Homo sapiens: one gene and its partners. The protein of the gene in region 6 purifies or fractionates together with the protein of the main gene of each other region. This does not show direct contact. Each region holds a gene or a part of one and is shown on either strand. Other genes may lie near its edges. The genes, in order: ITM2B, ST14, LMAN2L, LMF1, ROR2, UGT1A7 and RTL9.

Region 1 (4,325 bases), on a different chromosome or scaffold from region 6:
GTTTTTCTTCTTAAATCTCACGTGGCTTTTTCTTTAAGTAAAGCTTACTCTTTGAAGTGTTAAAATTTAATCACTCTAAAAACACTTTTAATAAATCTCTTAGATTAAAAACTTTTAAATCTTGAGCATACTTTAATCCCTTCTCCATGACTCGGATTGTATTATGGAACATCATTTATCTATCATACGTGATGTTAATTCTTGACTATAAATCGCTCAAAGTAGGAGCCATGTCTTAATCACATTTGATTTCCCACAGGATCTAGCACAGTATATTGCAAATAGCAAGCCTTACTTAATAAATGCTGAACTAGGCTACTGCTCTTGCTAAATAGCCACAGTTTGTTTTACGTTATGAATTATGTTGCATCTCTCCCTTCCCTTATTATCACGCTGGCTGCTGGTATAACTTTTATGAATCATAAAAAATTAAATAACCAGGCTTTTTAAAAAAATAGATCTAAGTTGGCCGGGTACGGTGGCTCAAGCCTGTAATCCGAGCACTTTGGGAGGCCGAGGCGGGTGAATCACGAGGTCAGGAGATTGAGACCATCCTGGCTACACGGTGAAACCCTGTCTCTACTAAAAATACAAAAAATTAGCCGGGTGTGGTGGCGGGCGCCTGTAGTCTCAGCTACTCGGGAGACAGAGGCAGAAGAATGGTGTGAACCCAGGAGGTGGAGCTTTCAGTGAGCTGAGATCGCGCCACTGCACTCCAGCCTGGGCAACAGAGCGAGACTCCATCTCAAAAAAAAAAAAAAGATCTAAGTTTTATTCACTCATCAAATATATGAGTGCCAGCTAATGCCAAGCCTAAGCTTGGCTTGGAGCTACCAGTAATGCAAAATGAATATGAATGGATACTTAAAAGATCTTATAGCCTAGTAGAGAGAGATAAGATCTTTATGTGAATTATTCTCATGAAAGAAAAGTGATAATTAGGAATTTAGAGAACAAAGATTAGATAGACTTTGAAGATTAAACAGCTCTTCTATGAAGTACATGATGGTGGTGCATAGGTTTGGGGTCTATAATTTGGCTGACCAAAGACTCTTGTTTATTTCCTGATTCTTAAGCCACGTTTCACGTTGTTGAGGTGCTGAATAAATTGACCTGTGGATAAGTGAAGTATTTGTAAGTGAAATTCCTCAAGAAATTGAATTTTAAAAAAATATTCAATAGTGCTGAGAAGTGATTTTTGAATGAACATGAGAAGTCAAACTCTAGCATGGTTTACAAAGGTCTTTTGTGACCTGCACCAGCTTCTTGTCCATCATTTCTCATACTCATCTCCACCATATTGGGCACTCCAGCCAAAGCACATGTGGCTCTTGGAAATGTCATGCATTTTAGCTCCATAAATTTTGAAAAATCATTGCCATATATAAAATTTCCTTTAACTCTATCTTCTGCTGAGGTAATGAGTATTTGTCCTTTAACATTCCACTAAAGTATTTTCTCCCTTGGGAAGTCTTCCTGAAACTCATCCCCTCTTATGTGCTCTCTGTGCATTTTCCTATTAGAGTTTGTATCATATTTATTTTCTTTTTGTATATTTATCTGTTTTCCGGACTGATCTAACAGGTCTCTTTCTTGGCAGAGCATACATTTCCAGTGCCTAGCACAGCTCTTGGCACATAGTAGACATTTATAATTTATTCTCAAAATGATTGTTGAACAGTTAAAAATGATATATTACAATGCCTTGAAACTTGTCATCAATTTGCCAGTTGGGGCTGCGTATTCTTTTACAGATGTCTGCCTGTGCTGTTTGGCTATTCATTTATGTACTATTGGAAGAGAAAGCCTGCCAAATGGGGTGGGTGTGTGCGCACATTTGGCTGTCCCAGCAGCTGATACCAAATGTTGGAAATAACTATTTCCATCTGTCATTTTCATCCCCCCCACTCTCCTTCCACTCTAAAATTAATTATGTTAGGAATGATTTCTTACCTCCTTAGATATTTATGTCAGACAAGGGCTCAAGCAAAAGATGTATACTTCGTCATTAAAGTTTCATAATACCTTATGACTCCATGGAATTCTTGTAGCTTTCTTTTCACAGCTGGGATATCTTACATGGCTTGCTAAATTCTTCAGACTTATTCTCATTACATACTTTTCTTCCTTGCAATACGCTCATTGTCTTTCACACATAGTATATTGACAAGTGCTACAGAAACCATGACATTCTCATAGCAATGCACTGATTCTTAGAATACACATTGTTTGTTGTTCAGTGTTAAATTCTATGTTTGAAATCTCAACCTAGGAACACACTGTATCGTATCACATTGTTCTTGGTTGCTTCAACATCTGGGATTAGACCTTTTTCAGTTGTATCATGTTAAAGTTCCTCATTTTAGAATTAAAAACATATAATCTTAGGTTTCATTCGTAACTGAATTCTTGCTTCAACCAAATCTATGTTCTAATACCGGGGTCCCCAACCGCCAGGCCACAGACCAGTACCGGAACTGGTCTTGGCTAGGAACTTGGCTGCACAGTGAGCATTGCTGCCTGAGCTCCGCCTCCTCTCAGATCAGCGGGGGCATTAGATTCTCTTAGGAGCGCAAACCCTATTGTGAACTGTGCATGTTAGGGATCTAGGTTGTGCGCTCCTTATGAGAATCTAATGCCTGGTGATCTTCTGAGGTGGAACGGTTTCACCCCGAAACCATATCCCAACACCCCTCAGTCTGTCTGTGGAAAAATTGTCTTCCACAAAACTGGTCCCTGGTGCCAAAAAAGGTTGTGTAGTGCTGTTCCAATGACCGATCCTGTTTTTGTGCATCATTCATAGTTTTTCTTTCTAATTTTATATCCTATTATATAGGTTTAGGTGAAGTCTGCTTTCTGCCTTAAGCCTACTCCATAGTGGGTTTTCCAAGTAAAGGACAGAGTCATGTACTTCAAAGAGGCTGTTCATGTATACTATGAATTTTTGCAGTCTTTACTATTTATTGAGTGACTACTTATTTAAGTATCTTTGTTTTCTTAGCTCTTTGCACATGAACTTGGGTACAAATCAGAAATTTGCTGTAATTCTAAAGTGACAGATTAGAGGGATCAGGTTAGAAGGGCACAGGGAGGGAATATCTAGGAATTATGAATGTCATGACCCCAAATAATGTTCTAATGCTAAATTGTTTTCTTAAGTGGATAGAAATGAAAATTTTATAAAATTCTGTGCTAGTTTTGTTTCTTGAATTTATCAGTAAATTTTTATCATTGAATATGTTCTCATTTTTTTCTACTGCTTCTATCTTTAAAAGAAAGTGAAGAATTTTATCAGACCATGGTTTAGGGTAGAGCAGTGGCATAATAGGATTATGTATTTCTATGTATATAATTTTGTCCTATTTTTTGAAATTCTAATTGTTTAAATAATTTTAGTATCATTGTTTGTTCTTTTCCTTATTTTCCTGTAATTTTTTCTTGTGGATGGTTTAGAATAGTTTTATACCTGGTATGAAATATAAACCACCTGTAGCAGGCCTAACACATAATTTCATAAATGATCAGATAGAGAGATGCCCTGGATTTATAATGTACAAGGCTCATCATCATATTATGTGACTAAGTTGTAGCATAACCTCTTCTAAATTATTAAATTATAGAATATATCACCAAAAGTTGTGCATGGAAAGTAAAAATTATGGAGTGTATCATTGCTTGAGGCAGGGTTAGCAGGTAGGGTGTTGAGATTAGAAGTAGACAACTCTCCTAGAGACCAATGTCCCAGTCCAAGAACCATTAAGATGAGCCCTGGAGCTACCACTTAATCATTCCTGGGTTGATTTTGATGAGAGACACAACTCCTTTGGTCTTTGTGTCTTCATTTATTAAAATGATAATCATTAAGGTTTTTCTAGTCCTGAGCCTTCTGTTATTCTGTCTGGAGATAAGATATTTAACTGTCTTTTTCATATTTTAGGACCCAGATGATGTGGTACCAGTTGGCCAAAGAAGAGCCTGGTGTTGGTGCATGTGCTTTGGACTAGCATTTATGCTTGCAGGTGTTATTCTAGGAGGAGCATACTTGTACAAATATTTTGCACTTCAAGTAAGTGGAAAAATTATTTTGTGTCTCTGATTTTTTTTTTTTTTTGCCTCTCCCGATGTGCATTACAAAATTGTTTACAACTTGCGCTAAGCTTGTACTTTTTATCTGTGACCTTCAGCCAGAGTGGTAGTTCTATTTTAAAGCTGTGTTTAAACATCTCTCCATGATATGTTTGCTGAGCCCATCACACACAGTCACTAAAAGCAGAGTAACTTGAAATGTTGGTGACTAAGGGATTTATTTAGGTCATTGGGTGATT
Region 2 (4,325 bases), on a different chromosome or scaffold from region 6:
ATATCAGCTTAAATTTACACTGTCGAATTACGAGATCACCACCAGAAGAATGACATCAGGAAACTGTCAAAAGGGCCAACACCTGTGGGTGTGGGATGGGCTGTTGCTTTTGTTGTGAGCCGTATTGAGTGGGCGTGAGGTAGTTAAACTGAGAGTGCCACAGTGCCAGGCCATGGTGCATCCCCAGGATTCAGGGCGGGCAGACGGCATGTGCTATCGGCAGAAGCCTTCGCCGGTCCGTCACTGGGTGCAGCAGACACCCCACCTGCCCCTCCGTATTCTGGCCCCTCATCATGGATACCCTTGGCAGGGAGGAACCCGGGGAAGTTGCCATCCTGTCTTTTGGGCGTTTGGTTTGCTTGCTTTTCCCTCTGTTGGGGCTGCGCGTGGGTGTGGATTCCCACAGTGGGCCTCTCACTGTGCCTTGAGGTCCTGGACTGGGGCTCCCAAGGTTAAACACAGAGCAGTTTTTTCCATGACAGCACCACCTTTTTACTTTTGGCTGGTTCACCATTGGCAGGGCAAGGCCGCTGGGTAGGGTGTGCAGTTGAGTGCTGGCCACAGGCTCCTGGGCCAGGTGATGGGGGGATTGAATCTGGTAGGGGCTGTGTCCGAGGGAGCAGGGCCTGCTCCTAGAAGTCTGCACAGGGGTACCAGTTGCCAGTCATGGGCCTGGGCTGGGGCCACTCTCCGGGGCACCCACCTACGTCAAAGGTGATTCACTGAAGGGGAGACCTGGATGACCGGGTTCGACAGCCCTTCATTGCGTTTTAATTTAAATGAACAATTCGTAAGCAATGATCGCCTGGTGCTGTCCAGACCCTGAGATGCGTGGTTGGGAAGGCCGACCTCATGTTCCTCCCAGAGCATGCCCAGGGTTCATGTCCCGGGGTCTGCGCTCTGGGCAGTGGTCCCCATGCCTCTGGGGGAAGCCCCCTTCTTCTCACCCAAGCCCCTGCTTTCTTCTCCAAGCTGGACCTCACAAAATGTGAACATCTTCCCCAGCGGGGTGCAGGGGAAGAGCGGGTGAGAGGGTCTGAGTGGTGGCGCCTCTCTCCCTGCAGAAAGTGAATGGCTTGGAGGAAGGCGTGGAGTTCCTGCCAGTCAACAACGTCAAGAAGGTGGAAAAGCATGGCCCGGGGCGCTGGGTGGTGCTGGCAGCCGTGCTGATCGGCCTCCTCTTGGTCTTGCTGGGGATCGGCTTCCTGGTGTGGCATTTGCAGTGTGAGTAAAGCTGGGGCTGGCTCCGGGGAGGACGACAAGGGGTGGCTGTCCCTCTTCCCTCAGCGGACAGACCCAGGGCCACCTACTGAGTACACGAGGATCTCTTGGCCTCTCTGGAACCCTGATGGGGAGTGATGGGAAGCAGTCAGGGCTGACCCATGGCCCCCTCCTGGCATTCATTCCCCATTGTGGACGGCGAGGGACAGGCGGGGGTGGTACCACCTCCCCTGACTGAGCGCCTTCTGGTCTCACACAGACCGGGACGTGCGTGTCCAGAAGGTCTTCAATGGCTACATGAGGATCACAAATGAGAATTTTGTGGATGCCTACGAGAACTCCAACTCCACTGAGTTTGTAAGCCTGGCCAGCAAGGTGAAGGACGCGGTGAGTGCAGCCTGCCCAGAGTCCTGCTGGGCTGTGTGCGCTGGTGTCCCACCTGCTGGGCAGGAGGGACATGCCTCGCCTGTGCTCCCAGGGCCCTGGGATGGGGGTGATCTGCAAAGGGGACCCGGGCCCTGGAGGGGAGGGAGCAGCCCGGGCTTGGGGCAGGGTCATCGCCGCATGGGGCTCACCTTGAGTCTCTGCCCTTCCTCAGCTGAAGCTGCTGTACAGCGGAGTCCCATTCCTGGGCCCCTACCACAAGGAGTCGGCTGTGACGGCCTTCAGGTGGGTGTGGAGAGAAGGCTCAGTGGGATGCACCCCAGACTGGCTGGGAGTAGGATCGGGGTACAGTGTGTGGGGCAGGAAGCGGGAGATGGTGCTGGAGGTCCTGGCCTGGAGAGCCAAGGAGGGTCCTCGCTGTGTCCTCCTGTGCGTTACTTGGCAGCCTGACTCTTCTGCCCCCATGGCAAAGGTGCCTGTAGCTGTTGCTGTGATGAGCTGCCCAAAGGCCTGTGACGTGCTTGGCATGATGCCAGGAACGGCTGTGATTCTTTGTTGTTTTTCCAAATTTGGGTATGGGGGAGTTGGGGTACTCAGGCAGCCTTCAATGAGCCCCCACATTTTCTGTGCTTGAGCAGTTTTTCACGCATACTTTTGTAAAAAAATAGACTTTATTCTCAAAGTGCTTTTTATTTTGCTAGTTCGTTTGAACCCTGGGGAATGCTGTGTGGCAGGTGGCATTCCCAGTTCCTTTCTCAGGTCAGAAAACAGGCTCAGGAAGGTGACACTCGGTGTGTCCTCGCTTGTGGCCAAACTCCAATGGGTTTCCCCTCCTCATTCCTACCCCTGAGCAGCCCCCAGAATCGGTCTGGTTGGGGATGAGACTGTGAGAGCAGAGGGCAAAGGGCAAGGCCTCTTGCTTTGGGGTGGAAAGAGGGATGACACAAGAGGAGCTGGGGAAGGGCCTCTGCAGATGGCAGGCCCAGGTGTGCCCCGAGCCGCCCATGTGTCCTGGAGTCGCTCTGGGCGCACGTGGGGGAAATGGGGCCCAGAGCTCCGCCTCAGGCTCCCGCTCTCTCCCCAGCGAGGGCAGCGTCATCGCCTACTACTGGTCTGAGTTCAGCATCCCGCAGCACCTGGTGGAGGAGGCCGAGCGCGTCATGGCCGAGGAGCGCGTAGTCATGCTGCCCCCGCGGGCGCGCTCCCTGAAGTCCTTTGTGGTCACCTCAGTGGTGGCTTTCCGTGAGTCCGAGGGCCAGGGGTGGGCGTGGGACTGGCCAGCCTTCCATGGAGTGGGGCTGGGCCCTGGACCATTGCAGGGGACCGGCACTCCCAGGGCCCAGTGCCCCAGAGAGAAGACTACGTGCTGGCCGGGCACCTCCCTTTAGATAATAAGGAAGCAGGAATAAGGAAATGGATTGTATCAGGAAATGCTTTATTCTCCTTCTTATTCTTCAGCCACGGACTCCAAAACAGTACAGAGGACCCAGGACAGTAAGTATCGTGCCCGCCTCCTCTTCTGGGTGGGGAAGAGGCGGGATGTGGCCAGATGCCCTTGAGCCAGTGGGGTCCCCAGAAGCATGTCCCTCTGAATGAAGTATATTATGACGATCTTTCCAGGCCCTTCCTCTTCCAGGCCCTTCTGAGAAGCCCCCTTCCTGATTTCCCGAGGCCCAGGGCAGCCTGGGGCGTCTCGAAGGGGCGAGGCCTGAGGTCCACACCCACGGGGTCTCAGGGTCCTCCCCCAGCTCTGCCCAGCCCTGCCCCCACACGTGCCCTCCTTCTTGTCTCCTGCGCAGACAGCTGCAGCTTTGGCCTGCACGCCCGCGGTGTGGAGCTGATGCGCTTCACCACGCCCGGCTTCCCTGACAGCCCCTACCCCGCTCATGCCCGCTGCCAGTGGGCCCTGCGGGGGGACGCCGACTCAGTGCTGAGCCTCACCTTCCGCAGCTTTGACCTTGCGTCCTGCGACGAGCGCGGCAGCGACCTGGTGACGGTGTACAACACCCTGAGCCCCATGGAGCCCCACGCCCTGGTGCAGTGAGTACCCCGGGGGGCGGGTAGGGCTGTGGGAGCTTGGCGGCTGCCCTGTAGGGGGCCAGCTTCTTCAACGATTGGGATACAGTTTATGACTCTTGGCCGCAGGCCACTGCTAAACATCCAGGCAGCAGGAGGCACGTGTGGTGTGATCCTCAGCTGCAGCTCCAGGGGAGTCTGGGAGGTGATTTTTCTCAGCCTTGGCAAAGCAGAGGAAGGCTCTATAGTCCCCAGATACCAAATCCAGCCTGTGCGGCCTGTGCCCTGAACCGCCGGAGAGAAGGCACTGCCCACGGTTGTAAAATGTAGGCTTTATTATTCAGGGATATGAAGGCCAACAGATCAGGAGATGACTGCTCTTGAAAAGACAATTTTGTTGGCGGGCACGGTAGCTCATGCCTGTAATCTCAGCGCTTTGGGAGGCTGAGGCGGGAGGATCTCTTGAGGCCAGGAGTTTGAGACTAGCCTGGGCAACAAGACTCTGCCTCTATAAAAAATAAAAAGCTTAGCTGGGTGTGGTGGCGCATGCCTACTCAGGAGGCTGATGCAGGAGGATCTCCAGCCCAGGAGGTCGAGGCTGCAGTGAGCGGTGATTGCACCACTGCACTCCAGCCTGGGCAACAGAGAAAGAACCTGCCTCAGGCCACATGAGGAAACACCAGGTTGGTCAAGGGGTAACAGGA
Region 3 (4,325 bases), about 140 Mb from region 6:
CCAGGCTGGTCTCGAACTCCTGACCTTGTGATCTGCCCGCCTCAGCCTCCCAAAGTGCTGGGATTACGGGTGTGAGCCACCGCGCCCGGCCTTAAATTTAGTTTTATAAGGATAAAAGGAACCCATGTTAGTCCAAGGGTTCTCAACCTCGGCTATACATGTGAATCTCCTGGAAAGCTTTAAAAGAGGAAGGCTGCCTAGACTGCACTTCAGACGAACTGAATCAGAAGCTCTGGGGTTGGGACTGGATGTCAATATTTTTAAAAGTTCTCCAGGGAATTACAATGTGCACTTGGAAGTAAGAACCACAATAGCTAGCCAGAAAAGATGTCTCAATTTTTACCATCTAAAATAAATTTTTTTTAATTAACATCTACAAAATCCTTACAAAATAAACCCAAGTCAGAATTTCTACTTTCTCAAACCAGAATTACTACTATCTCATGGTGAAATGGAAGCTAACAGAGTTTGAACAATTTGTTTCTGGAAGAAACAGAGAGACAAGTTTAAAACTCTTGTCAGGCCCTAAAGCTGATAACTCTTATTCAGATCCATTTCTAACTACCACTATTTCCTCAGCATGACTACAAATCCAGTCATGATCCTCTCTTCAATAAAATCCTTTAATGTACCTACCCCTTCAGAATCAAGTCCAGACTCCTCAACAGGAACACAATCCTTCAGAACTTGGCCCCAAGTGGTATATGGTGAGCATGAGTCACATACATTCAGTCTGCTCTGGCTCTCATCTAAACAGTTCAGCCACCAACCACCCAAGCAGATGCCAGTCAGTCTCAGCGGCTAGTTAACATGCCGAGGCTACAGTGTTAATATTGTAGAATGCAAGGTGAACAGCAGCCCTAGGAACTGTGCAACATAACAAGACTACTGGCCCTGCTTTTCATTCTAGCCTCATCTGTCTCTGATTCTACTTTATTTCCACACACTCATTATCCCCTCTCTCTCTCTTTTTTTTGAGATGGAGTTTCACTCTGTCGCCCAGGCTGGAGTGCAGTGGCGTGATCTCAGCTCACACTGCAACCTCCACCTTCCAGGTTCAAGCGATTCTCCTGCCTCAGCCTCCTGAGTAGCTGGGACTACAGAAGCATGCCACCACACCTGACTAATTTTTGTATTTTTAGTAGAGACGGGGTTTCGCCATGTTGGCCAGGATAGTCTCGGTCTCCTGACCTCGTGATCCACCCGCCTTGGCCTCCCAAAGTGCTGGGATTACAGGCATGAGCCACTGCACCCAGCCTCATCATCCCCTCTCTTAACCTTAGGACCTCGGCTTTTTTCCCTCTGCATGGGACACGGGTTCCTTACTCTGCAGACCTCAACCTAAAAGGCACTTCCTGGAAGAAGCCTTCCCCACTACCACCAACACTACTGCCCCACTTCAGGTTAGAAGCTCCTGCTGTGTCCTCCCATAGTGCCCCAGAGTTCCCCCATCAGCATTCTCAGTGCTACTGAGTACAAGGACCATGTTATCTTGCTCACTAATTCCCAGGGCCTGGCACCTAGAAAGTGGTTAATGTATGTGGAATGAAGAACAGCCCAGAAGGAACACAGAGAAGCAGCTGTAACTGATCCACAACAAAAGGTTATTCTCCTAACTCAGGTCTCACATTCCACCACCTTTAAAGTGAGCTCGCTGGGCACAGTGGCTCATACCTGTAACCCCACCACTTTGGGAGGCCAGGGTGGAGGAATCACCTGAGGTCAGGAGATGGAGACCATCCTGGCCAACATGGTGAAACCTTGTCTCTAAAAATACAAAAATTAGCTGGGCGTGGTGGCGTGTGCCTATAATCCCAGCTACTCAGGAGGCTGAGGCAGGAGAATGGCTTGAACCCAGGAGGTGTATGTAGGTTGCAGTGAGCCGAGATTGCACCACTGCACTCCAGCCTGGAGACGAGCGAGACTCCATCTCAAAAAATAAAAAAAATAAAAAATAAAAAGTGAGTTCTGTGGGAAATGTTAACAGCTGTTGAATCTAAGCATCACAGATACAATGATCATTCTCTATTCTTCTAATTTTTTTTGTTTATTTTGGTGACAGTCTTGCTCTGTTGCCCAGGCTGGAGTGCAGTGGTGTGATCTCAGCTCACTGCAACCTCCGCCTCCTGGGTTCAAGCCATTCTCCTGACTCAGCAACCTGAGTAGCTGGGATTACAGGCTGCAGTGCAATGGCGTGGTCTCAGCTCACTGCAACCTCCACCTCCCAGGTTCAAGTGACTCTCCCACCTCAGCCTCCCAAGTAGCTGGGACTACAGGTTAACACTAATACTAATAAAAATACTAATTTTTGTATTTTTAGTGGAGACAGGGTTTCATAATGTTGGCCAGGCTGGTCTCAAACTGCTAACCTCAAGTAATCTGCCCACCTCGGCCTCCCAAAGTGCTGGGATTACAGGCGTGAGCCACCATGCCTGGCCTTCTAATGTTTTTTAAGTTTGAAAATTTTCATAATAAACCTTTGAGGAAAAAAATAATGTGACCTTTGCCTCTATTTCTAATCCTGATTTCCTCGCTAGGTACTTAGCTACAGGATACCCAGCAACAACCTGTCATAATTTCCCACCATCTGATGGCAGTGCCGTAGGACATAGAGAGAGTACAAACCCACTGTCAATATAAGAAAGCAATAGCCGGGCATGGTGACTCACGCCTGTAATCCCAGCACTTTGGGAGGCCGAGACAGGCGGATCACGAGGTCAGGGGTTCGAGACCATCCTGACCAACATGGTGAAACCCCGTCTCTACTAAAAATACAAAAGTTAGCTGGGTGTGGTGGCATGCGCCTGTAGTCCCAGCTACGCGGGAGGCTGAGGCAGAAGAATAGCTTGAACCTGGGAGGCAGAGGTTGCAGTGAGCCGAGATCGCGCCACTGCACTCCAGCCTGGGCGACAGAGTGAGACTCTGTCTCAAAAAAAAAAAATTAAAAAAAAAAAAGAAAGCACTAAAAAACTCTTAGGTCAGGTAACAAAAAGGCCTGCCAACAGCCAGATACTAGGTTCCAACAAAATGCTGGGCTTTCATCAGTTTCCTTCTCGTTATAGCCTTTTCTTTCTTTCTTTTTTTTTTTTTTGAGACAAGAGTCTCACTCTGCTGCCCAGGGGGGAGTGCAATGGTGTGATTCTCTTGCCTCAGCCTCCCGAGTAGGTGGGATTACAGGCACCCACCACCACACCCATCTAATTTTTATATATTTAGTAGAGACGGGGTTTCACCATGTTGGCAAAGCTGGTCTCGAACTCCTGACCTCAGGTGATCTGCCCACCTCGGCCTCCCAAAGTGCTGGGCTTACAGGTGTTAGCCACCACACCTGGCCAATTATAGCCTTTTCTATAGGCGAGGAGAACTGTTCTTCAGGTCTGAGAAGAAGAAGAAGAAAAAGAAGCTGAAAAGTGTGTGCAAGTTGCAGAAGAGAGCACAGCACTGATGGATTAAAAGTCAGGGGAGGCTGAGTTACGTAAATTCAGCTTGCTCTGGTGCTGGTCTAGCAGCCAAATCACCAATCAACCAAACATGCTCAATTTTAGTGGCTATCTAATAGGCACAAGAGAGAACATGATTATCACTAAAGAAAAAGCCCCTGTTCAAGACAGCTATTCCCAAAAGACTGTGCACTCCTAAATAGTCCCTTTAGAAAAAAACACTGACAAGGACATTAACTTTCAAAGTTCAACAGATGAAGAACCCCTCACTTTCTATCTCCTTTGTTCCCTCCTGTACAACATTCCTGAGGCAAAGAACTGTGATGTCAGTGTAGCTGACCTAGGCTCTGACACTTGCCATTACCTCTTGCTGCTTCTCCTCATTGGGGTAGGTGTCTACAAATACTCCCAGCCCCACAAATTTGTCCATGTTTCCAAACACAGGCCCTAGAGAGAGAGAACAGATGATGAACAATGAAATAAAGCTAAGAGTTGATAAAGGAATAATATATCACTATGATGGAGGAAAAAGTAAAATTCAAATGACTCCCAAGCCTCTCTCAAGATGAGAAAACACATGTTTAAAAGTACCCAGCAAAGTGCATGGCCTGTAACAAGTGCCCAGTAAATATCTGTAATTGTTTGTTGTTGGAGGCAAGGGAAAGAGAGAAGGCCACTGCAACCTTATTTAGCACTCAGGCAGCTTCCTGATCCAAACTGGTTGCTAAGGTGCCCCTACAGAATTCTGCTTTACAAACAATTGGTAAAGACTATGCCCCCAAGAGAGAACTGAATTCCCTAGTTCTCCTTCTTGTTGCAAAAGAGATCAGGTCAAATCAGGTTGAGCCTGCCATCTACATGGAGCAATAATAGCTCTAACACAAG
Region 4 (4,325 bases), on a different chromosome or scaffold from region 6:
TTTGTGTAAGGTGTGAAGTGTGTTCAGGTCCATCTTTTTGCATGTGGACATCCATCTGTTCCAACATGATTGTTACAGAGACTCTTCTTTGTTTTTTTATTTATTTTGTAGAGACTGAGTCTCACTATGTTGCCCAGGCTGCTCTGGAATTCCTGGGCTCAAGCGATCCTCCTGCCTCAGCCTCCCAAAGTGCTGGGATGACAGGTGTGAGCCACCACGCCCGGCCCAAGGCTGCTCTTTGTCTGTGTAGTTGCCTTTGAACCTTTGTCAGAATTTGTTCACTCTGTGTGTCGGGTCGGGGGCAGGGGGGCTGTGTCTGGGCCGTCTCTTCCATTCCATTGAGTTCTGCGGCTCTTCCTTAATCAATACTGCGCTGTCTTGATGTGGTCTTGATTAGCTTTTTAGTAAGTCTTGAAATTGGGTAACATGAGTCCTCCACCTCTGTTCTTTTCCAGATGATTTTGGCTTTTTAATCCCTTTGCTCTCCCATGTATATTCTAGAATCAGCTTGTCAGCCTCGGCGGAAGCACTGACTGGGTGTTTGGTTCAGATTGTGCCGAATTTATGGATCAAATTGACACCTTAATGATTTTGATTTTTCCAATCCATGAACATGGTCTATCTCTTCATATAGTTAGATCTTGTTTCATTTTTTTAATCAGTGTTTTGTAGTTTTCCATGTGCAGATTCCGTTTATATGTTTTTAGATTTATAAATGCATGGGGAAAAGTACATGTACTAGCTTCCTACATGTCTACACAGACACTCACTCCAAACCAGCATGCACAGTTACACAGACATGGACCCCAAGCCAGATTCCTACACGCAGTAGGAAGCCGCATGTACTTGTGGGGTTGCTCTTGTGATATTGTTATCATTATGCAATATCTTCTTTCATCCCTGTGTCATTCCTTGTTTGTAAATTGATTTTTTTCCTTTTGAGATGGAGTCTCTGTTGCCCAGGCTGGAGTGCAATGGTGCCATCTCGGCTCACTGCAGCCTCCCGGGTTCAAGTGATTCTCCTGCCTCAGCCTCCCAAGTAGGTGGGACTACCGGGGTGCACCACCACATCCGACTAATTTTTGTATTTTTTAAGTAGAGACAGGGTTTTGCCATATTGGCCAGGCTGGTCCCAAACTCCTGACCTCAGGTGATCCACCCGCCTCAGCCTCCCAAAGTGCTGGAATTACAGGCGTGAGCCACCGTGCCCGACCCTTAAATCTACTTTTTTTTTTTTTTTTTGAGATGGAGTTTTGCTCTTGTCGTCCAGGCTGGAGTGCAGTGGCGCAATCTTGGCTCACTGCACCCTCCACCTCCCAGGTTCAAGCCATTCTCCTGCCTCAGCCTCCTGAGTAGCTTGGATTACAGGTGCCTGCCACAACGCCCAGCTAATTTTTGTATTTTTAGTAGAGACAGGGTTTTTCCATGTTGCCCAGGCTGGTCTCAAACTCCTGATCTCAGGTGATCCGCCTGCCTTGGCCTCCCAAAGTGCTGGGATTACAGGCGTGAGCCACCCTGCCCAGCCCTTAAATCTACTTTTTATGATGTTAATAGAGCCACTTCCACTTTCTTTTGTTTGTATTTTTTATTTTTATTTTTAATTTTTTTCAGCCATGATGAATTAGATCCAGCTTTCTTTTGATTCACATTTGAATGGTGTATCTTTTTTACTTTCAACTGCTTTTTCATTCTTCACGTTTACACATGGGAATGTGCTTCTCTCACCTGTCAGCATCTCTGGGTAAGCATTCAGTGTTCTACAAATACTGACGTCCAGAGGATGTGAGAGAGCTGTTGTGGGTGGGCGCCGTGGGACATGAACTCGGAGACCTGTGGATGTGAGAGAGCCGTCGTGGGGTGGGCGCCGTGGGACGTGAACTCGGAGACCTGTGGATGTGAGAGAGCCGTCGTGGGGTGGGCGCCGTGAGACATGAACTCGGAGACCTGTGGATGTGACAGTGCCATTGTGGGGTGGGCGCCGTGAGACATGAACTCGGAGACCTGTGGATGTGAGAGAGCCGTCGTGCGGTGGGCGCCGTGAGACGTGAACTCAGAGACCTGTGGATGTGAGAGAGCCGTCGTGGGGTGGGCGCCGTGAGACGTGAACTCGGAGACCTGTGGATGTGAGAGAGCCGTCGTGGGGTGGGCGCCGTGAGACGTGAACTCGGAGACCTGTGGTCTGCGTAGAGGGCAAGTGTGGCTCACCTATAGGCAGTAAGTGTCAAGCCCTGCAGCGTGTGCTGGGAGTGATGCCGTTGACCAGAGCCAGGGTCCTCAGGGTGTGTTTCATAATGGTGAATGCTGAGTGCAGTCCGGTTGGTCAGCTGGCTGTCTGTGTGTAGCCAGGCACGCAATTTATATACACATGTCTACTTTACTTCTATGTGTGTGCGTGTATACACACTGCATCTGCTGCAGACACGGAATTTATATACAAGCATCTAGTTTGCTTCTATGCGTATGCGTGGATGCACACACTGCGTCTGCTGCAGGCACCCATTTTATGTAACGTGTCTGGTTCACTTAGATGTGTGTGCGTGTATGCACACACTGCGTCTGCTGCGGGCACGCATTTTATGTAACGTGTCTAGTTTACTTAGATGTGTGTGTGTGTGTATGCACACACCGCGTCTGCTGCAGGCACGCATTTTATGTAACGTGTCTGGTTCACTTACATGTGTGTGCGTGTATGCACACACCGCGTCTGCTGCGGGCACGCATTTTATGTAACGGGTCGGGTTCACTTAGATGTGTGTGTGTGTATGCACACACCGCGTCTGCTGCAGGCACGCCTTTTATGTAACTTGTCTAGTTTACTTAGATGTGTGTGTGTGTATGCACACACCACGTCTGCTGCAGGCACGCCTTTTATGTAACTTGTCTAGTTTACTTAGATGTGTGTGTGTGTATGCACACACTGCGTCTGCTGCAGGCACGCATTTTATGTAACTTGTCTAGTTTACTTAGATGTGTGTGTGTGTGTGCACACACCGCGTCTGCTGCGGGCACGCATTTTATGTAACGTGTCTAGTTTACTTAGATGTGTGTGTGTGTATGCACACACCGCATCTGCTGCAGGCACGCATTTTATGTAACGTGTCTGGTTCACTTAGATATGTGTGTGTGTGGATGCACACACCGCGTCTGCTGCGGGCACGCATTTTATGTAACGTGTCTAGTTCACTTAGATGTGTATGCGTGTATGCACACACCGCGTCTGCTGCAGGTTGGCTTTTCCAGTGTTTCCCCCAAAATCTTGAGAAAGTACTCAGACTCCTGAGTCTAGGGTTTGGCCCCAAACCGTCAGCCAGACTCTGCCTCCCCTTCCCGCCTGCCTCGCCCCGCATTCTGAGCTGCGCCCATGGTGTCCACATGTGGTTTGTTCCTAGTCATGCTTGTTTTGTCTTCTTTTTCTTCCAGTCGTGGCATTCCTGGTGGCTTTCCATCAGAACAAGCAGCTCATCGGTGACAGGGGGCTGCTTCCCTGCAGAGTGTTCCTGAAGAACTTCCAGCAGTACTTCCAGGACAGGACGAGCTGGGAAGTCTTCAGCTACATGCCCACCATCCTCTGGCTGATGGACTGGTCAGACATGAACTCCAACCTGGACTTGCTGGCTCTTCTCGGACTGGGCATCTCGTCTTTCGTACTGATCACGGGCTGCGCCAACATGCTTCTCATGGCTGCCCTGTGGGGCCTCTACATGTCCCTGGTTAATGTGGGCCATGTCTGGTGAGTAGCAGGAATGGGGCGGTCGGAGCTTAGGGCTTGCTGTCACTCAGCACAGGCACTGCAGGTGTCCTGGCACTTGGAAAGACTGGACGAGCGTTTATCTTAAATTCCTTCAGGAGGGTATTGTCATTTTACTTAGGCCATGGCAGAGCGGCCAGTGCACCAGCCACAGCAGCCACCCATCTTCAGGATTAAAACCCCACCTCTTTGCAGTAGCTCTTCCTTACTTAAAGGACTGCGTTGCCAGCTTACTGGAGCCAGAGGGATGGGGAAAGGGAGGCAGAAGCAGTGGGTCTGTGTCTGTGTGGACGTGTAGGAGGCTGGTTTGGGGTGGGTGTCTGTGTGGACGTGTAGGAGGCTGGTTTGGGGTGTCTGTGTGGACATGTAGGAGGCTGGTTTGGGGTGGGTGTCTGTGTGGACGTGTAGGAAGCTGGTTTGGGGTGGGTGTCTGTGTGGACGTGTAGGAGGCTGGTTTGGGGTGTCTGTGTGGACGTGTAGGAGGCTGGTTTGGGGTGGGTGTCTGTGTGGACATGTAGGAGGCTGGTTTGGGGTGGGTGTCTGTGTGGACATGTAGGAGGCTGGTTTGGGGTGGGTG
Region 5 (4,325 bases), on a different chromosome or scaffold from region 6:
ATCATGGTGAAGGCCGCTGCAGAGCCCGCGAGACTCGCGTTAGCGGGGGACCCACCTTGCGCCCTTGACATTCATCCAGTCCCCACCCCCAGCCTGGCATCCCAGACTGCCCACTCAGCCCCCTGATGCCCCGCCCCGCCCCAGACTCCCCAACCCCGAGCCCCGCACACCACCCTGGAGAGGCTCCCCACCAGCAGGCCAGCCTGCCCATCACCTGCTCTGATTTGCAGCAGTCACAGAAAAGTCCCTGGTCCCAGGGCCTCACTTAGAAACATCAGAAGCAGAACAAGAAAGAAGGAAAACTCGGCCCCCTAGCTCACTCCGCTAGGTGCTTCTTCCAGGACAAGAGGGTTCAGACTTCAGATGCAAAAGCAGATCCTAAGGACCCGCCATGTGTGGAGAGCGCAGGCCAAGAAGTGCAGTACCGAGCCCCAGGCTTCCCAATGTCCCAGATCTGTCTGGGGAGAAGGCTGTCCCGGAAGAGGGAGTCAGCTCAGCTCTGTGAACTGCAGCTGGAGGAGACAGTTGGTAAAATGCGGAAAGCCAAGAGGGTGAGAGCAGCAAAGTGGGAGGAGAGCCGCGTTACAACTCTGGAAGGTTCTGTGATAAGGGGGAGCAGAAAAACCCGAAGATCCAGAGCCCCCTTTGGTAGGGCGGTTTGTTTTTTAAGGGCAAGATGTCAGAGGATGCAGTTTGGTGGTTAGAAGATGGGGTGAGTTCGGGAACAAAGTGGGGGTGTTGGGGAGAGATCTGCTGCACCTGGGGTGCATGGCTGGACACTGGTAAGGGTGAAGAAGCTGGCCAAGGCAGGGCTCTAAGGAATGCATCAGCCTGCCCTGGGCTCACTACCCCATTTTCACCTGTGAAAGGCTGGCTTACAACAATTGAGCTTGGGGACAGTGGAGGCAGACAGGCCCCTTTGCCTGCACACCCAGCAGAGGCTGTGTCCTCCAGCGTGGCAGAAAACCCAGAAGCTGGCATTTAGTCCCTGAGGAGCCCTAACTCCACCCACGAATGCAGTTCAATCCCATCATTACAGATTTGGCGATTATTTGGTGATTATACAGAGGGCTGTCAAGAATGCTGGCCTTGACCTCCAGGCAAGGAAAGCGTGTAAGTGCTGTGCCAGGTTTGGCCAGCAGGTGGCAGTGCCGCTGTCAGTCATTCCCTGGGAACCCACCCAGGAACGGGATGGGCAGCTGTGTGGGAACAGCCTTGTGCGTGATCACTTTGTGGTATCACTCATGCCTTTCCGGGCCTGTTTCTGTACCTGAAGAGTGATTTGAGACCCCACACTGGGGAATGAGAGTGCACACAGAGCCTATAAAGTGGCCCTCAGCGTGAATGGGCCCAGGGGTCTGGTAAAAGGCGGCGTCAGTGGGCGGGAGCAGCCACGCTGTCCTGATTGTGTGCAGGCACTACTGTGCTCATCACATCACCTCCCCTCCTCTGGGTTCCTGTGGCCGATATTTAAATGGAGGAACAGAGAGGGCAAGCAGTTACAGTACAGGATGTCTTGGATTTGGAGGAAGAACTGAGGCTTCAACCCTGTTCAATCCCATCATTACAGATTTGGGATTATATGGATGGCTGTCAAAAATGTAGGTAGGCCTTGACCTCCAGGCAGGGAAAGATTGTCTAAGAATGCCAAAGCTGTCACTTCTCTTGGGCTAATCCACTGATAGGATGTCTCTGCTGATCTTTATAGGATTTCTCTTTCTCCTTCTCCTCACCCTGAGAATGTACTGCTTATTTCTGAAAGTGCAATTCTAGGCACAAAGAGATCCAACAACTCACATCCTGTTATCTGTCCACACCCTGAATGTCACACAACACTTTCCAACACAACACTGCACACAACGCAGTCATTACTATGCTTATTTCAAAACCACAAGTCTGTTGAGAGCAACTTCAAATTTACTGTTTTCAAAAAGCCACCCACCTAGAAAATCTTCATTCTAAACTCTTCTCTAAAAGATGCTATAAAACCAGGCTGCTTGGATGCAAGCTGATTCCTTAAACAACTCCTGAAGAGATAACTGAGGGACAATCTTGTGCCCTGGATCAGTGCTTGCCAATTAGTAGGGTGTCTAATTAATTCTGAGAGTCTGCAGCTAGCATTTTAAAAGATGGTAAGAACAGACTAGAGGATGTCAGAATGCACGGTTCCTACTAAGGGCTCTAACTTTTTTTTTTTTTTTTTTTTTTTTTTTTTTTTTTTTTGAGACAGAGTCTTGCTCTGTCTCTGGGGCTGGAGTGCAGTGGCGCGATCTGCAACTTCCACCTCTCGGGTTTAAGTGATTCTTCTGCCTCAGCCTCCCAAGTAGCTGGGATTACAGGCACCCGCCACCATGCCCAGCTAATTTTTTGTGTTTTTAGTAGAGATGGGGTTTCACCATGTTGGTCAGGCTGGTCTTGAACTCCTGACCTCGTGATTTGCCCGCCTCAGCCTCCGAAAGTGCTAGGATTACAGGCGTGAGCCACCGTGCCCGGCCACTTTTTTATTTAATGAAATAAAACTGAAAAGAAAAATCCAAGTGCACCGCTTTTACGAAGGGTGAAAGTTATTCCCTGTAACCTATGTCAGTTGTGTGAAATACATGTATGTGTACACTAAGTCATGGCGTAAAGTATATTCTCTATTTTCCACTGTGTGTTTCGGTAAAAACCTTTGAGAAGTCCTACTTTAATGGCAAAGAAAGCTTTTGCAGTGAGAGGTAGCCATATTTTCAAAACCATCTCCCGCTGGAACAGGATGGCATCTCCAGGTTCCTCTCTGTCTCATGATGGCTCTTTCAGTTTGCACAGGACCCCCTGGCCCTGTCCTCAGAGGTCTCTGTACCAGCACATGGGCCAGGCAGTCTCTTCTGTGACCGTGAATGTGATGTTCGACTCTCTAGTCCGAGGGTGACCTGAACTTAGAAGGGCTTGTCAGTGACATGAGGTGACTTTCTGCCTTGGATCCTCATTGTCACCCCTTAACAGGTCAGTGCCCTGTATCCCCTTTGCCCCACCACACTCTCCCAGGAGCGCAGGCATCAGAGATCACCCACTGACTCTAATCTGCAGCAGAGCCTCCCGCTCCCATGGAGAGGATCCAACTAAACTGAGGTGCTGGGGCACCGGCCATCTGCACAGGATGTGTCTTGCTCCTTATGGGATCTGGAGAGAAAATGTGTATGTGTTTGTGGAGAGAGTAGAGACAGCAGGAGGAGGGCTCTGTAGGACTATTGTCTAATTAATTTTCTTCCTTTCCAAGGCCTTTCCCCTAAGAAGGACCCCGGACCCCATCAATGTGTTCGAGTTGTATGCTGGGAACTGGGACAGCCAATCAGAGAAGTTAAGTCCTAATGAGACCAAGGATGAGCAGCTGCAGTTCCTAATTGACTTGCCACTTTCTCAGACCCTGAACCAGGTACCCAAAGACGTGGCTTTGTTCTCTGGAAACCCAGGACTGACAAAGTGTGTGTTCACTGCAGCATCCCTACCACTGATGACCCGCGACTCTTTCCCCAAAACAGCTGCAATCAGGCCTGGGTGCCTTTGGACCAAACGTGGCTCAGAGAGGATAGAAGAGTCAGGAAGTACAGAATGAGAAGTCAAGCAGAGTGAGTGTGGGGGCGCTGAGGCTATCTGCGCCAGTGTGGCAGGCCCGGGGCAGGAGGCCCTGGCGTTGCAGTGAGGACAGTGCTTTGGACCCACACGGTTTGGCTGAGTTAAAAGTGCAGAAGTATATTCCAAGCAACCCACACTTGCTAATTTAAACATACAGGCCAGGAACATTTTTAGGGCAAATCATGTTAGCAATTGCCACTACTTCTAAAAAAGATCTCTGGTTTCTACCACAAATGAAATGGAAGAGGCACCCACTGACCATGCCATTAACTGATGAAACACAGTGGCCACCATCTGTGCGACAGATGGCTGTGTGCATGCTTATCATCCTGGGAGAAAGGTCTGCAGCTCCTACCTGTGATTCGGTTTTCAATCTCCCCCTGCATCTGAAGCGAGTCCACATAAATGGTCCGGTTGCCAATGAAGCGTGCACAGGCAATTCCCCGGTAAGGCTGGCAGAACCCATCCTCGTGGTAATCATCCCTGGTAAGAAACACACAAAGTCTGTTAGAGCTCTGGGAGGTGCCAGGTCCCGCCAATGACTTCTTTTATGATCCAGCATCTTGCGATCCAGCAATTTTGTTACTTGGTATTTATATAAGTAAATTTAAATAAGTAGAACACATAAGTCACACAAAAACCTGTATGTAAATGTTTATGGCAGCTTTATTCATAATTGTCAAAACTTGGAAGCAATAAGATGTCTTTCT
Region 6 (3,275 bases):
ATGGTGATGATGCCCTTGTTTGGTGATCAGATGGACAATGCAAAGCGCATGGAGACTAAGGGAGCTGGAGTGACCCTGAATGTTCTGGAAATGACTTCTGAAGATTTAGAAAATGCTCTAAAAGCAGTCATCAATGACAAAAGGTAAGAAAGAAGATACAGAAGAATACTTTGGTCATGGCATTCATGATAAAATTGTTTCAAATATGAAAACATTTACGTAGCATTTAATAGCGTTGTTTCAAATATAAAAACAAATACATAAAAATCTGGATTTTTATTTCTTCTTTTTTTTTTTTTTTTTTTTTTGAGATGGAGTCTTGCTCTGTCACCTAGGCTGGAGTGCAGTGGTGCAATCTTGGCTTACTGCAACCTCCACCTCCCACGTTCAAGCAGTTCTGCCTCAGCCTCCGTGTAGCTGGGATTACAGGTGTCCACCACCACGCCCGGTTAATTTTTGTATTTTTTAGTAGAGAAAGGGTTTCACCATGTTTGTCAGGCTGGTCTTGAACTCCTGACTTCAGGTGATCCACCTGCCTCGGCCTGCCAAAGTGCTGAGATTACAGGCATGAGCCAGCGCGTCTGACCTGGATTTATAAATAAGATAATTTAGAGGTTATTATTCACTTTATAAAAGGATTCTTTAGTTTCTATATAATTTATCATATAATTTATTTAGAATTTTATTTCCCCCATTAGATTTAAAACTCCAATTTACATAAAAAGTTGCCATAATAGACATCTGATCCATAAGTTTCCTGCACAGAAAGAAATACTCCATTATAAGAAGCATAGTATCTTTAAGAGAAAAACAACTCAAATGCTTAGAAGTACAGCTTTTTGCAGCACTGGAACCTGTGAGAAATTTTGTCCATGGAGTTTATGAATGAAGGAGCTATAAGATATCACAGACAAAGTCTTAGAATAAGAGCAAAGGAAAATTTGCTCAAATGTGGCCCTGAAAACGATTCAAAGGGCAAATGATTTCTGGATTAAAGTTAGTATATTACTGTCAAGCTCACTGGTAATAGGCTTATTAGAACCTTATGGGAAGAAGTGGTGGCCAGTGGTAGATTTCATCCGACAATAGATACTGTGTGCATATGTGCGTGTGCGTTTGTGCATGTGGCTGTGCTCATGTGTGGGTGCACACGTGTGCATTCATATGCGTGTGTGTGTGTGTGCGTGTGTTTATGAGAGTGTCCATTGCTTTCTCCCATGGTTACCTCCTTTAGAAAGAAGCAGCAGTCAGGAAGACAGATGTGAAGAGCTGGAGCATGTTCAGATGAGAGGAGACGGAACACGGGGACACACCAGCTTGAGCAAGGGACAACAGGGGAGGACTGATGACTGACTTCCCACCTTTGAGGTGCTAATGTGTGTGTGGTGGCACTGGATAAAAGATCAATGTTGGCTAGGCACCATGGCACACGCCTGTAGTCCCAGCCACTCTGGAGGCTAAGGCGGGAGGATTGCTTGAGCCCAGAAGTTGGAGGCTGCTATGAGCCGTGATCATGCCACTGCACTCCAGCAACCTGGGCAACAGAGTGAGACCCTGTCTCAAAAAAAAAAAAAAAAATGAAAAGTCCACATAACCTGAGCATCATGTGCCCAGAGCGTTGGGTGGTGTGGTCCCATTCCTTCCTTCCAGCGGCTTCTTCTGGCCACCTCAATGTCAGGATGTCCTGCTCACATATCAATACCATTAAAACCTGACTTCTTTCCCTGCACTGTTGAAGCTCCTTCTTGAGGCTCACATTATGGATATAATTTTGATTCTTTCTTCAGTGGTATAGATAACTACTTGTAACCTAAGAACAACTTGGTGAAAGTCCTCTAATACATTATTTTTTAAAAAAACACAAATCAATGAGCTCAACTTATTAACTAACTTTCATCTATTCATTTTTGAGCCATCCCTGTCTGATTGTGAATCTCCATGATTCCAACACTCTGAGCTGGGGATAGTGCCTACACAAAATAAAAAGAAGTGGAAAATTTTCAAACATCAGTTTATGCTGACAACCAGGCCATAATAGGTGCTCAATTACTATTGAATGAATGAATGAAAGTTCTGGCCAGGTACGGTGGCTCATGCCTGTAGTCCCAACACTTTGGGAGGCCGAGGCAGGTGGATCACTTGAGGTTAGGAGTTCGAAACCAACCTGACCAACATGAAGAAACCTTATCTCTACCAAAAAAATATAAAAAAATTACCCAGGCATGGTGGTGTATGCCTGTAATCCCAGCTATTTGGGAGGCTGAGGCAGGAAAATCACTTGAACCTGAGAGGCGGAGGTTGCAGTGAGCTGAGATTGTGCCACTCCACTCCAGCCTGGGCGACAGAGTGAGACTCCGTCTTACTTAAAAAAAAAAAAAAGAAGGTTCCAAGAAAATTCATCTTAAGGTTTATGTAAAAGGAAGATGATATTTAACATGATTCATGGCCAAGTACTAATATTACATTATAATAATGTTTCCAAATAACATTATAGATATGTTTAAAGACAGTGTATTAGGCTGTTCTTGCATTGCTGTAAAGAAATACCCAAGACTGGGTAATTTATAAAGAAAAGAGGTTTCATTGGCTCGTGTTTCTGCAGGCTGTACAGGAAGCTTAGTGCTGACATCACTTGGCTGCCGGGGGAACCTCAGGGAGCTTTTACTCATGGCAGAAGGCAATGCGGGAGCTTGCATGTCACATGGCAAAAGCAGGAGCGAGAGAGAGTTGGGGGGGAAGGTGCCACACACTTTTTAATGACCGGCTCTCACAATAACTCATGAAAACTCACTATCAGGAAGACAGCACTAAAGCACAAGGGATCCGACCCCATGATCCAAACACCTCCCACCAGGCCCCATCTCCAGCACTGGGGATTACAATTCAACATGAGATCTGAGTGTGGACAAATATCCAAACTGTATCAGTCAACAGCGATCATAATTAGTCCTGAATAGGAGTGCCTTTTTTTTTCTTTCTTCTCCCTTTTCTTTTCTACTTCCTCCTCCTTTTCCCTCTCCTCTTCAATCTCCTCTTCATTCCTGTAGCACCAAGGGTTGAAGCACCTAACCCGTTTTGGATTGAGATGTTCTGATTGGGCAATGAACACTGTCCAGAATAAACAGAAATCCATTTTGCACTAAGTGGCTGCACAGACCCTGCCTCATGCTAAATCTAGCACCCAGATAGTTTAATGTTTCAATGACTGAATTACAAATATATCATCACCTTGGATTTGGCACTTACAAATGGCTGTTAATTTGGCCAGAGGTGGT
Region 7 (4,325 bases), on a different chromosome or scaffold from region 6:
AATGGCCCATAATGCTGTATGCAACCCAGATATTGACATACTCCTGTCCTTCAGGTGATGGATCAAATATCCCACTTGGTAAAATCTTCTCTGATTACCATATTTAGTATTGCAAGCGCCTTCTCGCCATTCTCTATCTGCCTTCCATGTTTTATTTCTTTATACTTTGAATACTAGCAGATGTTATATGTTTATCTATTTATTTGTTTATCATCTATCTCCTTCTGCTAGAACAGGAGCTGGAAAACTTTTTCTGTAAAGGTCCAGATAATAAATATTTTAGGCTTTGTGAGCCACGTAATCTTTAACACAACTACCTACCTCTATCATTGTTATACAAAAGCTGCCATAGATGAGCATGGCTGTGTTCCAATAAAACTGTATTTACCAAAACAGGGAGCGGGCTAGATTTAGCTAATGGGCCATAGTGTACTGACCCCTGCTAGAATGTAAATTCCAGGAGGGCAAGGACTTTTGTTTACTGCTGTATCTCCAACATCTAGAATAGTACCTGGCATATAGTAGGCACATGATTTATTTTACTGAATGAATGCATCAGTGGGAGATTGGAAAGCTGTGGAATAAAAAATATATATATATAACAGAGCCATTGATGGTGCAGAATCCTGAACAAAATCTAGCTTTGGATGGGTTTGCAGCATATCAACTCTCCTTCCTTCTTTTTCCCCTCATCCCTACACTAAAACTTAAGCTTGTTATATAAAGTAAAAGTTGCTTTCATTGCCTGTGCAATTCTCCCAATGTGTGAAATTTCATCTGACTTCCTTTAATGTTGTCATTTGTCTATTTAACCCTCCTGACTCAGACTCCCTCTAATAACAATAATAACTCAAATACTCTGTACTAAAACCAGAACGCTGAAATCAGTATTTTTAATTAATTTGAAACAACTGCTAGCAATAGCTTCTATTGACAACTCTACGCTTTTCAACACTTAATCATATTCTGAAGTACTCCCAGAAGCTGGGCGACTGTTACTCTTATGATATGAGATGATATTTTCCTTCCATGCATTCAATGTGAATGGTTTGTTCTGAAAAACTTCAGCTTTCATGTACTCCTAATGGTAAGAATCACATGGTAGGAAATATGATAAATGAAGTATTTACCAGTTCTTACTGACTGTTCTTTCATACTTCCTTGGATCTCTTACAGGCACTAAAGATATCCTGTAGTTATATGACTTCCTATTGAAAATGCACTTTCACTCATTCATTATTTTATATAGTCTTCCACACATTGCTAACATTTACCAAACATTCACTACGTATGTGGTATTGTGCTGGGGGATTTATATATATTAATTCATTTAATTCTTATAAAACACCTAAGTGATATATACTATCATAATTTTATAGATGAAGGAACTGAAGTACTAAAAGCTGAAGTAATTTGCTCAAGGCCCCACAACCAGCAGAAAAGGAAGCTAGCATTTCAACTCAGGTCTGCCCAACTCCAGAGCCAAGATTTATCTATTGTTTTTTGTCACCTCAACAAATATTTACCATATGCCATGCAGCACACTAGGCAGTACCTACAAAGATGAATAGGGCATGATCTCCTTGGCCTTCCAGAGGTAACACTAGTTGGGGCTATATGGGTGGGAATGGAGTGTCAGATGCAGAAGCTAAGGAATTTTCTCTTTACAAACAGGTGGGTGAGAAAGTAGACACAGCACTGTGAATTTGTGGAGTTTTGAAAAATGGACAGAGGGCTACAGACTGAGAGGGAATAGGGCCACCAACTCTAGAATTAAGGTCAACTGATAGGGTAGAAACATGCCATTCTCAGGGGCTTAAGCTGACAAAAGAAATTGCCCACTGTAGAAATGAGATTGGCTGCCCACAGAAAAGTATTTACTGATAGATAAGGGACCTCCCTATGTGTCATTAAGGAGTAATGCTCTAAAATGTAATCAGTGGAAAACACAACTGTAGCCTTGGAAATGCTATGGCTGGGAAAGTCCATATAACTAAGACGGGGTTCATGATATTGTGACATGTACAAACAAGTTATTTGACCATTATAGAGAGAAAAATAAAAATAATTAGAAAGAGAAGTTGCTTTTATTACTCTGTGCCCTGGCCTACTGACACATTTATTGACTTTCTGATAGGGTGATGCATGGATGCATCAGACTGAATAAACTACATGACTCCATCTCTTCAGATCATCCCACACCATATACTATCTCTTCACTCACCAGTAATAACAGTCACCATATAACAAGTGCCTACAGAGTCAAACACTTTACATAAATTATCTTATTTAATCCTCAAGGCAACTCTATGATATCATAGAATTCTATTATTAGTTCCATTTTCAAATGACGGAACTGAGGCTCAGAGAGGTTATGTGACTTAAGCCCATAAAACGGAATGAGTGGTATATTAGTTTTCTGTGACTACCATAACAAATTGCCACAAACTTGGTGGCTTAAAACAGCAGATATTTATACTTTCACAGTTCTGGAGGCCAGAAGTTCAAAATCAAGGTGTTGGCAGGGCCATGCTCCCTACAAAGGCTCTAGGGGAGATTCTGTTCCTTGCCTCTTCCTAGCGGTTCCAGGTGTTGCTTGGCTTGTGGTAGCATCATTCCAATCCCTGCCTCTGTCTTCAGATGGGCTTCTCCCTTGTCTCTGTGCCCTGTCACTTATAAGGACACTTATCATTGGATTTACAGCCCACCCTAATCCAGGATGATCTCATGTAGACATCCTTATCTTACATACATCAGCAAAGAGTCATATTCTAAATAAGTTCACATTTTGCAGTTCCAGTTGGATGTAACTTTTGGGGGCGGTGACACAATTCAACCCACTATGTATAGCCTAGCTGGGACCCTAGCCTATCTGACTCCAAAACTCTGGCTCTTTCCACTAACTAAAGCAGGCTGCTCCCACCAAACAAACAGCCTTTTGTCTTTATTTGGTTTCCTAAGTAGATTTCCTACTGGGATTTATCAAGATGAATTAATAAATTGACATTTTGGCTTCCAAATTATTGCCTTATAAGTTTAGGTTGTGTGAAATTTGTCCCCTAGAGCCTGATCAATCCCTGGCTAAAATGGAAAAAATTGAGTTTTGGAACCTGTGAAGCTGATGAATGGATCCTGAATAGGACCAAGGTCCATTTAGAGTATAAGCATCCCACAGCCTGCCAGCCATACTAATTTCTTTACTATATATGTGACCATAATATAATGGGATAGCATAATATTCTAAGTCTACCGAAGAATGTCTAATCATCTAAGAGCTTACAGGGGGAATTTTTGTGTACCTTAATATTATATCCAGAAATATTCCCTGTAGTGCCAACTATATTTGTTCCTGAGCCTCAGCTCCCTGCATCAGGTCACAAGGAAGATGTCTCTAGGAGTTCATTATCACATTAAGACAAGGATTCTGTAGGAAAATGGGAATCTAGAAACAGTAGGGACTTCCTGTACCTCTACATCAGTGTCTTTGCAGGGGAATTGCCCTAGCTGACCAGTTGACACTGGCCTGCTCACACCTTAATTATGAATAGAATATTCCCAGGGATGTCTTTCTCAGATTGTGGTCAGTTTGTGGGCCGCCTATTGTGGTGGTCCACTGAGTGACACCTGGGGAGCTAGTTAAAAATGTCAGTTTCCTGGTCCTTTATAGCAGACTTACTGAGTTAGTATATCTGAAGATAGGGTCAGGAGCCTGCATTTTAAAACAAGATTCTGGAATAATTCTGATACATATTCAAGTTTGAGAACCATTGCCTTCTGGTGAAATCAGGCTTCCATGACGTTGAAATACAGAATAAACTCCAAATGTTCATTTACAATTCCAGCCAATAATCACTTACCTTATTGCATTCTTGTAGCGTGATCTATATGCTTTAGTTCATGTGACAATATCATTTCATATGGCTTAATTTAAATGAAAGCAAAGGCAGTTATGGCAAGATTTCTTAATCCTGCTCTCCTGAGACAATTTACATAATAACTTTTGGGGAGAATGCAATAATCTCTCTCTAATATCTTAAACTGATCTCTAAGGTTCCTTTTGGCTCCAACATTCTGATTCTATCAGTGTTCCTAGGGCTTCAAATCTGTCTGTGCAAAACACATTGCTTGTTACAGACTAAACCTATTTTCCTTCTTCCAGGCAACAAGTTTCTGAAGAAAACTGGTTGCTCATGATCTTTCTGGGTGTTTTCTAATAATATATACCTTCTCACAATATTATTGCAAAGAGTGAGCGAGGTGATCTATGCAAAGTGCCAAGCATAGTGCCTGACACAAGGAAGTGGTTAGTAAATATGCATGCTGCT

What was found.
Region 1: the proteins of UGT1A7 (region 6) and ITM2B purify together in Homo sapiens (affinity purification with mass spectrometry; one large-scale study listed by BioGRID and IntAct). This does not show direct contact.
Region 2: the proteins of UGT1A7 (region 6) and ST14 purify together in Homo sapiens (affinity purification with mass spectrometry; one large-scale study listed by BioGRID and IntAct). This does not show direct contact.
Region 3: the proteins of UGT1A7 (region 6) and LMAN2L purify together in Homo sapiens (affinity purification with mass spectrometry; one large-scale study listed by BioGRID and IntAct). This does not show direct contact.
Region 4: the proteins of UGT1A7 (region 6) and LMF1 purify together in Homo sapiens (affinity purification with mass spectrometry; one large-scale study listed by BioGRID and IntAct). This does not show direct contact.
Region 5: the proteins of UGT1A7 (region 6) and ROR2 purify together in Homo sapiens (affinity purification with mass spectrometry; one large-scale study listed by BioGRID and IntAct). This does not show direct contact.
Region 7: the proteins of UGT1A7 (region 6) and RTL9 purify together in Homo sapiens (affinity purification with mass spectrometry; one large-scale study listed by BioGRID and IntAct). This does not show direct contact.

Annotation. Positions count from the first base shown.
Region 1 is NC_000013.11:48,249,871-48,254,195, forward strand, and holds part of ITM2B (integral membrane protein 2B), read left to right. Parts: intron 1-3,937; coding exon 3,938-4,066; intron 4,067-4,325. UniProt on the Homo sapiens protein: Plays a regulatory role in the processing of the amyloid-beta A4 precursor protein (APP) and acts as an inhibitor of the amyloid-beta peptide aggregation and fibrils deposition. Plays a role in the induction of neurite outgrowth.
Region 2 is NC_000011.10:130,187,050-130,191,374, forward strand, and holds part of ST14 (suppressor of tumorigenicity 14 protein), read left to right. Parts: intron 1-1,064; coding exon 1,065-1,224; intron 1,225-1,480; coding exon 1,481-1,608; intron 1,609-1,819; coding exon 1,820-1,890; intron 1,891-2,689; coding exon 2,690-2,847; intron 2,848-3,063; coding exon 3,064-3,099; intron 3,100-3,404; coding exon 3,405-3,645; intron 3,646-4,325. UniProt on the Homo sapiens protein: Exhibits trypsin-like activity as defined by cleavage of synthetic substrates with Arg or Lys as the P1 site. Involved in the terminal differentiation of keratinocytes through prostasin (PRSS8) activation and filaggrin (FLG) processing.
Region 3 is NC_000002.12:96,729,715-96,734,039, forward strand, and holds part of LMAN2L (VIP36-like protein isoform 2 precursor), read right to left. Parts: intron 3,888-4,325; coding exon 3,805-3,887; intron 1-3,804. UniProt on the Homo sapiens protein: May be involved in the regulation of export from the endoplasmic reticulum of a subset of glycoproteins. May function as a regulator of ERGIC-53.
Region 4 is NC_000016.10:953,762-958,086, reverse strand, and holds part of LMF1 (lipase maturation factor 1), read left to right. Parts: intron 1-3,420; coding exon 3,421-3,730; intron 3,731-4,325. UniProt on the Homo sapiens protein: Involved in the maturation of specific proteins in the endoplasmic reticulum. Required for maturation and transport of active lipoprotein lipase (LPL) through the secretory pathway. Each LMF1 molecule chaperones 50 or more molecules of LPL.
Region 5 is NC_000009.12:91,733,421-91,737,745, forward strand, and holds part of ROR2 (tyrosine-protein kinase transmembrane receptor ROR2 isoform 1 precursor), read right to left. Parts: intron 4,099-4,325; coding exon 3,971-4,098; intron 17-3,970; coding exon 1-16. UniProt on the Homo sapiens protein: Tyrosine-protein kinase receptor which may be involved in the early formation of the chondrocytes. It seems to be required for cartilage and growth plate development. Phosphorylates YWHAB, leading to induction of osteogenesis and bone formation.
Region 6 is NC_000002.12:233,768,297-233,771,571, forward strand, and holds part of UGT1A7 (UDP-glucuronosyltransferase 1A7 precursor), read left to right. Parts: coding exon 1-143; intron 144-3,275. Other genes in the region: UGT1A8 (UDP-glucuronosyltransferase 1A8 precursor), read left to right, coding at 1-143; UGT1A10 (UDP-glucuronosyltransferase 1A10 precursor), read left to right, coding at 1-143; UGT1A9 (UDP-glucuronosyltransferase 1A9 precursor), read left to right, coding at 1-143; UGT1A6 (UDP-glucuronosyltransferase 1A6 isoform 1 precursor), read left to right, coding at 1-143; UGT1A5 (UDP-glucuronosyltransferase 1A5 precursor), read left to right, coding at 1-143; UGT1A4 (UDP-glucuronosyltransferase 1A4 precursor), read left to right, coding at 1-143; UGT1A3 (UDP-glucuronosyltransferase 1A3 precursor), read left to right, coding at 1-143; UGT1A1 (UDP-glucuronosyltransferase 1A1 precursor), read left to right, coding at 1-143.
Region 7 is NC_000023.11:110,361,555-110,365,879, forward strand, and holds part of RTL9 (retrotransposon Gag-like protein 9), read left to right. Parts: intron 1-4,325.